Homo sapiens: one gene and its partner. The protein of the gene in region 1 purifies or fractionates together with the protein of each later gene. This does not show direct contact. Each region holds a gene or a part of one and is shown in the gene's direction. Other genes may lie near its edges.

Region 1 (3,915 bases):
GCCTGTAGTCCCAGCTACTGGGGTGGCTGAGGGAGGAGAATCGCTTGAACCCGGGAGGCAGAGGTTGCAGTAAGCCAAGATTGTGCCACTGCACTCCAGCCTGGGCAACAGAAAATGTGTCAACTCTTGGGCAAATAGGTGCTGATTTCATGGCATACAAAGCAAATTGACTTCTGGTATAAATCTTCTGTAGCTATAAGAACTTCACGTATGCATGTATGTATTACAGAAAAATCCTTTGACACTTAAATGTAGGGGGAAAAAACACCTCTACTTGAGTATTTGGGTTAGTTAAGGCTTTATTGAACTTTCTTGCGTATGTTTTTTTCTTACTCTTCAGTGGCCCGAACCTGTAACTTGATCTTGATTGTTCTGGATGTCCTGAAACCTTTGGGACATAAGAAGATAATTGAAAATGAGCTGGAAGGCTTTGGCATTCGCTTGAACAGCAAACCCCCCAACATTGGCTTTAAGAAGAAGGACAAGGGAGGCATTAATCTCACAGCCACTGTAAGTGGGGAATATGACATGGGGCAGGCTGCTGCAGGAATTGGAATGGGGAGTGGATTGGGGTGCATGGACCCTGACATTGGAAAATTTCCTGGCTTTTCCCTGCACTAATTGAGATAACACAATGACTTTATAATGACTGACAAGAAAAACTTCAAGATTAGGATAGGAGCCAGTCTCAGACTTACCTTTGCTACTTATTTCCTCTTTTGGATTATCTATTGGGAATGATATGGGCGTGTGGACCAATATTATGCTTGCATAAAGTAGATGGCCGCCAATATCTTCTGTTTTCATTCATTTAACACAAATTTATAGAGTGCCTACCACGGGCCAAGCATTATTTTAGGCTCTGGGCAGGAATGGAAGAGGGAATAGTGAAACCCCCTGCTTTTATATTCTAATTGGATAGAATAGAAAACAATGTTAATGAGTAAAATATAATGTATTCGTCAATGATAAATATAAGAACACAAAGTAGGGAAAGGAGATAAGAGTGTTGGTGTGAGGGTTGCAGTTTTAAGAACGTTGGTCAGGGAAGTCTTTACTGAGGTGACATGAAGGTGTGAACCAAGTGGATATCTTGAAGAAGAGCATTTGCTTCATGCCTCAACCTCCTGAGTAGCTGGGATTACAGGTGCCTGCCATCGCACCCAGCTAACTTTTGTATTTTTAGTAGAGACGGGGTTTCACCATGTTGGCCAGGCTGGTCGGTTTCATTCTGTTGCTTAGGCTGGAGTACAGTGGCACAATCATAGTTCACTGTTAGCTCAAAACTCTTGGGCTCAAGTGACCCTCCTGCCTCAGCCTTCTAAGTAGCTAGGGCTAAGTCACATGCCTCCAGGCTTGGCTAATTTTTTTTTTTTTTTTTTTTTTTGGTAGAAACGGAGATTTGCCATGTTGCCCAGGCTGGTCTTGAACTTTTGGCCTCAAGCTGTCTCCTGCTTCGGTCTCCCAAAGTGTTGGGATTACAGGTATGAGCCACCATACCCAGCCATGTTTTTTATTTCCTGAGCTAAAAAAAAAATGAACTCTTATTACTAAAATGGTAGGACTTTTGGTAGAATAGATTTGGAGGGAAGGAGAAGATCAGGATGTTAAATTTTAGATGCCAGTGAGACATCCAGGTATTTCAGTCAAGAGGGCATGTGGGGTAGGCTGGGCATGGTGGCTCATGCCTGTACATCTATAATCCCAGCACTTTGGGAGGTTGAGGCAGGAGGATCACTTGAGCCCAGGAGTTCAAGACCAGCTTGGGCAACAAAGTGAGACCCCATCTCTATAAAAATAATAAAGAAGGCATGAGGAATTATCTAGGCTGGATATATAAATTTGGTGATTATCAACTTTAATGTCATGGGCCTAACTGAGATCACCAAGGATGTGAGTATAGATAGAAAAGAAAAGAGAGCTGGGTGCAGTGGCTCACACCTGTAATCCCAGTACTTTGGGAGTCCGAGGTGGGCGGATCACAAGGTCAAGAGATGGAGACCATCCTGGCCAACATGGTGAAACCCTGTATCTACTAAAAACACAAAAATTAGCCGGGCATGGTGGCACGCACTTGTAATCTCAGCTACTCGGGAGGCTGAGGCAGGAGAATCGAACCCAAGAGGTGGAGGTTGCAGTGAGCCGAGATGACGCCACTGCACTCCAGCCTGGTGACAGAGCGGGACTCCGTCTCAAAAAAAAAAAGAAAGAAAGAAAGAAAAGAAAAGAGAATCGGCCAGGCACGGTGGCTTACGCCTGTAATCCCAACACTTTGGGAGGCCGAAGTGGGCAGATTACATGAGGTCAGGAGTTGGAGGCCAGCCTGACCAACATGGCAAAACCCTGTCTGTACTAAAAATACAAAAATTAGCCAGGCGTGGTGGCACGTGCCTGTGATCCTGGTACTTCGGAGGCTGAGGCAGGAGAATTGCTTGAACCCAGGAGGCGGAGGTTGCAGTGAGCTGAGATCGCGCCACTGCACTCCAGCCTGGGCAACAAGAGCAAAACTCCGTCTCAAAAGAAAAAAAAGAAAGAAAAGAGACTCAGAGAAATAAGACTTCTTAGACCAAGAGAGAGAAGGAAAACTGAAAGAGTTTGAAATACTGGAAGCCAAGTAAAGTGTTTCACATAGGAGTGACCAATTCTGTCAAATGCTGCTTCTCTGTCAGAATTGAGGACTGAGAGTTTCCTACTAAATTTAACACTTCAGAGCCCAGATGATTTGACTGGCATAGGTTTCAGCTGTCCTGCCCAAAACATCTTTCCCATTATCCCGTCTTAATATTCAAATTTGAACATTTAAGATTATTTCTGTGTTAGTTTCAGTGCTGCCATAATACGGTACCACAGATGGGTGGCTTAAATAACAGAAATTTATTTTTCATAATTCTAGAGGCTAGAAGTCTGAGATGAAGTTGATGGCAGGGTTGATTTCTTCTGAGGCTTCTGTCCTTGGCTTACAGATGGGACTTCATATGGTGTTTGCTCTGTGTGTCTGTGTCCTAATCTCCTTTTCTTATTAGGACCACCAGTATTGGATTATGGCCCCACCCTAATGACCTTATTCTAATTTGATTACCGCTTTAAAGACCCTATCTCCAAATACATCACATTCTGAGATACTGAGGTTAAGACTTCATGTGAATTATTTGGTGGGGGAAGGAGGAACACAGTTCAGCGTGTAACACCTTCCTTGGAGTTTGGACATTTATTTCCTACTAAAAGTCAGTGACACTCATCCCGGATGTATTTAGTAATGAGTTTGCATCTTAGCTAGAATTTTCCAGGTACATGGATATTGGTACACTTGACAAGTATTTTTTTTAAATTTTGTGCTGACTAGTCATCTGCTATTCCCTTTCAGTGCCCCCAGAGTGAGCTGGATGCTGAAACTGTGAAGAGCATTCTGGCTGAATACAAGATTCATAATGCCGATGTGACTCTACGTAGTGATGCTACAGCTGATGACCTCATTGATGTGGTGGAAGGAAACAGGTACTGACTGAGTGTGCAGTCTGTGCCTGACTGAATTGGAAGCCTTGTGATGGAAACAGTATTGGATCTTGAATCTGGCAGAAGTTTATCTTAATTCCAGTTGTCCTACTGTCTTTTTTTTTTTTTTTTTTTTTGAGATGGAGTCTCACTCTGTTGCCCAGGCTAGAGTGCAGTGGCGTGATCTCAGCTCACTGCAAGCTCCACCTCCCAGGTTCAAGAGATTCTTCTGCCTCAGCCTCCCGAGTAGCTAGGATTACAGGTGCGCACCACCACGCCCAGCTAATTTTTGTATTTTTAGTAGAGATGGGGTTTCATCATGTTGGCCAGGCTGGTCTTGAACTCCTGACCTCAAGTGATCCGTCTGCCTCGGCCTCCCAAAATGTTGGGATTACAGGCATGAGCCACTGTGTCCAGCCTGTG
Region 2 (3,915 bases), on another chromosome or scaffold:
CCAATGTCCCCTTACTATAACCACTTAGTCCCCTTACTATAACCACTATACTCTGCTGCCATACCTTGGGGACTATATCAGAATCTTAGTGGGGGTTGGTAGGTCAGGAGGAGAGGGAGGAGTCTGAAAAATATATATCCAATATACCCACTGATTTTATCAAATAAATGACAAAATAGTTGGCTGTTGGAGATCTGTAGAAGATAGAGTGAGAAAACAGGGTAGAGAGCATAGGATTCAACGGGCTGAGAAATACTCATGTCTTCCACCTATTCCACCATTTAAAGTTGTTGTGGCCACAGGAGCGAGAGCCCCTGTAACAGATCCCTGTACACAGGAGCCTATAAAACACTAGACTTGGTAAACTAGTCCTCTTCGAAGCTTTGAGTGGAAATCATATTTCTTCTAGATGTTTTCATTATCTTATACGACTAATTGGTCTCCTGGAGGCCATCCCTGTTCCCACAAGGCCAAGGCAGATGTTGCAGCTTCCCCCACAACGCAGCCTCTAGTTTAGCATTCAACAGAAAGGAAGTGCTCTCTCTATGAGGCAACTATCGAGTGTTGCATATTGAATGTTGTCTCCTGTTTAAAGCAATGGCGAGAATAATAAAAGCTACCTTTGCCTCTTAAAAATATTTATAAATAAGACCTTATTATCTTTTGCTTACATTCCTCATTTTACAGGAGAGGAAACTGAGGCATGTGGCCACAAAGTGATTTTTCCAAGACATGCCAATCACAGTGTAGCACAAGCAACCAAAGGGCAGTGAGACTCTGGTTTTATTTTTCTAGTTCCAGTTTAACGACTAGCTCTGAATAGCCTTGGGCCTGCCCCCACTCAAAACAGAACTAAAGTGGAGTTGTCACAAATAAGTCATCTGGAGAAATAATAGAAAAAGAGGGTGTTTCTCTTCCCTGTATTCTCAGGAGGAAAGGAGTAGGGGAGCACACAGCACTACAGAGACCCCTGCTGGCGTTCAGCCTGCCTGCCTTCGGGAGCATCTGCCAGTTCCATTTTATCAGCGAGAGTCACTGTCCTTCAGAGATGACCCCCTTGCAGCACCACTATTCCCCAAACACACCTGCAAGGGGATTAAAACTCCACCTCCTTGAATTCCCACAAGTCTATCACACTATACCACCAGTTAAATAAATGCTGCAGGGGCCGGGCGCAGTGGCTCACGCCTATATTCCCAGCATTTTGGGACGCCGAGGTGGGTGGATCACCTGAGGTCAGGAGTTCGAGACCAGCCTGGCCAACATGGTGAAAACCCATCTCTACAAAAAATACAAAAATTACCCTGTTGTGGTGGCAGGCGCCTGTAATCCCAGCGACTCAGGAGGCTGAGGCAGGAGAATCGCTTGAACCCGGGAGGCAGAGGTTGCAGTGAGCTGAGATCACGCCACTGCACTCTAGCCTGGGCGACAAAGCAAGTCTCCCTCTCAGAATAAACAAATAAAAAATAAATGCCAGGCCGGGTGTGATGGCTCACACCTGTAATCCCAGCACTTTGGGAGGCCAAGGTGGGCAGATCACCTGAGGTCAGGAGTTCAAGACCAGCCTGGCCAACATGGAGAAACCCCGTCTCTACTAAAAATAAAAAATTAGCCGGCATGATGGCAGGTGCCTGTAATCCCAGCTACTCGGGAGGCTGAGGCGGGAGAATCGCTTGAACCTGGGAAGTGGAGGTTGCAGTGAGCCGAGATCGCACCATTGCACTCCAGCCTGGGCAACACAGTAAGACCCTGTCTCAAAAATAAATAAATAAATAAATAAATAAATGCCACAGAAAGATAGATGTGGACATTGTGCCAAAGAAAACAGTATCTGCCAAACTTTTGGTGCTGCTTTCCCAATATTTTCTTTTCAAAAGCCCATGACTCTTGATGGGGGAAGATGGTGAATTTTCCCAGAGGAGTGTGATCTTGCAATGGAAACCCTTTGCAGCCGGTTAGGACATGGCACTGGCCATGCTTTCAGACTGCTCTCTTGGGAGCTTTTGGTATTATGTATTGAAGCCATGTGTATACTTTGATTATAACTTCAGAAATCACCCCTAATACCACAATCTAGTGGCAAATGTTTCCAAAAGAAACTATTAATTACAAAATGGTTTTGGGGTTTTTGTTTGTTTGTTTTTGTTTTTTGAGATGGAGTGTTGCTCTGTCGCCCAGTGGCGTAGTCTCCACTCACTGCAACCTTCACCTCCTGGGTTCAAGCAATCCTCCTGCTTCAGCCTCCCAAGTAGCTGAGACTATAGGTGTGCACCACCACACCCAGCTAATTTTTGTATTTTTTGTAGAGATGAGGTTTCACCATGTTGGCCAGGCTGGTCTCGAACTCCTGACCTCAGGTGATCCGCCCATCTTGGCCTCCCAAAGTTCTGGGATTACAGGCATGAGCCACTGTGCCTCGCCAAAATGTTTTTGAAATACAGATGTGTATAGAACTTTTTTATCTAGGGGTGGTTCTTCTAGATTGAAATCTCCATCAAAAATTAAGGAAAGGAAAAAAGTCATCTTCCATCCTTTATGGGTGGTGTCTAATGTCCCTCAGTAGAGGAAACAGAACTCAAAGGGAAGCCAGCTAAGTATTTGATGTGTGTTATGCTTTATCCCCACAATAGGCCTGTAAGATAGGTGCTATTATGATCCCTATTTTACGAAGGAAACTGAGGTTAAACAAGTTGCTTGAAGTTTATATAGCCAGTAAGTAGAGCCAGGTTTCAACCCATAGAGTCTTGATTCTCACCGATTTCTCTAGCCAACTGCATTTTTCCTTATTTGGTCTCCTCTTGGGATCTCCCCAGCTGCCTTTGTCCTCAGAAGCTTTCTTCATAGTGGTCCCATCATTATTCGCTTCTTTTTACATGGAAATCATGCATCTATATATATAAAAAGTAAAACAGAAACAAATGCTGACATTTTCCTTTTAATTCACATTTCAAGTTTTCTAATTTGAGCAGTTCCATCTGTCCTCTAGAAAGGGAAATCTTACATTAATAAAAAAAAAAGAAAAGAAAAGAAAACTCAGATTGTATACAAAGAAACTCTTTTCTCTGCCTGTTCTTGGAATTATTCTTCCTCATGGAGGCTAGCGTCTTTAAAAGCCTACTACTGAATGATATGTATTCTTGTAGCATTAGAGAGCGGGGCTTCTTGGGCCTTTCAAGATGAACCACAGGATAGCTAATCCTCCTCAGTTTACTCTCTTCTTAGGCCAGTCTCTGTAAGACATAGCCTTTCTTGAGCTTTTTTGAAATATGTTGTTTATCCATCATCCTTTTAAAGGTTTCAAATAGAAGGCAGTGTGCTCACATTAGACATTAAATGCCAACGTGAAAAGTAAAGTTTCATAGATAAGATCATTGGAATTGGTATGTTTAAAGCCTCCTTGAAAATAATGTTCTTGCTTCATGAACTGGTGTTTTCTTTTTGTATGCTTCATGTAGATGAATGGACAGAGGTGGACAGAAAACGAGGTATGCTATCTCCGGGCTGCATGTGTTCAGTGTGCATCCACAGGTTCACTCAGGCCTTTATCAGCAGGGCTTAAAATGGGACCGCTTGAAACATTTCAAAGTCAAAGTAAGAAAATAGGCATGAGTTTGTCTTTAGCTGAGATATTGGTTATACATTTGAATCTTTTACTTAAGAGGAAGAAATACAGCATGTTAAGATGAAAACTAAGCAAACTCTGACCAAAAAGCCACACTGTACTTGAGGGATATGTCTCCTTTTCTCAGTTCCAAGCTTTGCTGGGACAGCTGGGGCAATAGCCATACTTTGGGGTATGTCATCCTATTTGGTAGTCCTTAAAACAACTTTGTTTTGTCATGTAACCAAAGAATTGTGCTTCAACATGAGTGACCCTCCCTGAGCCATTCTCCTAAGCTCACAGAGCAACCGAGA

What was found.
Region 2: the proteins of DRG1 (region 1) and OSCP1 purify together in Homo sapiens (affinity purification with mass spectrometry; 2 studies listed by BioGRID and IntAct, with this or other methods). This does not show direct contact.

What each region holds. Positions count from the first base shown.
Region 1 is NC_000022.11:31,419,916-31,423,830, forward strand, and holds part of DRG1 (developmentally-regulated GTP-binding protein 1), read left to right. Parts: intron 1-340; coding exon 341-510; intron 511-3,364; coding exon 3,365-3,495; intron 3,496-3,915. UniProt on the Homo sapiens protein: Catalyzes the conversion of GTP to GDP through hydrolysis of the gamma-phosphate bond in GTP. Appears to have an intrinsic GTPase activity that is stimulated by ZC3H15/DFRP1 binding likely by increasing the affinity for the potassium ions.
Region 2 is NC_000001.11:36,443,574-36,447,488, reverse strand, and holds part of OSCP1 (protein OSCP1), read left to right. Parts: intron 1-2,681; exon of another isoform or gene 2,682-2,888; intron 2,889-3,455; coding exon of another isoform or gene 3,456-3,485; intron 3,486-3,915. UniProt on the Homo sapiens protein: May be involved in drug clearance in the placenta.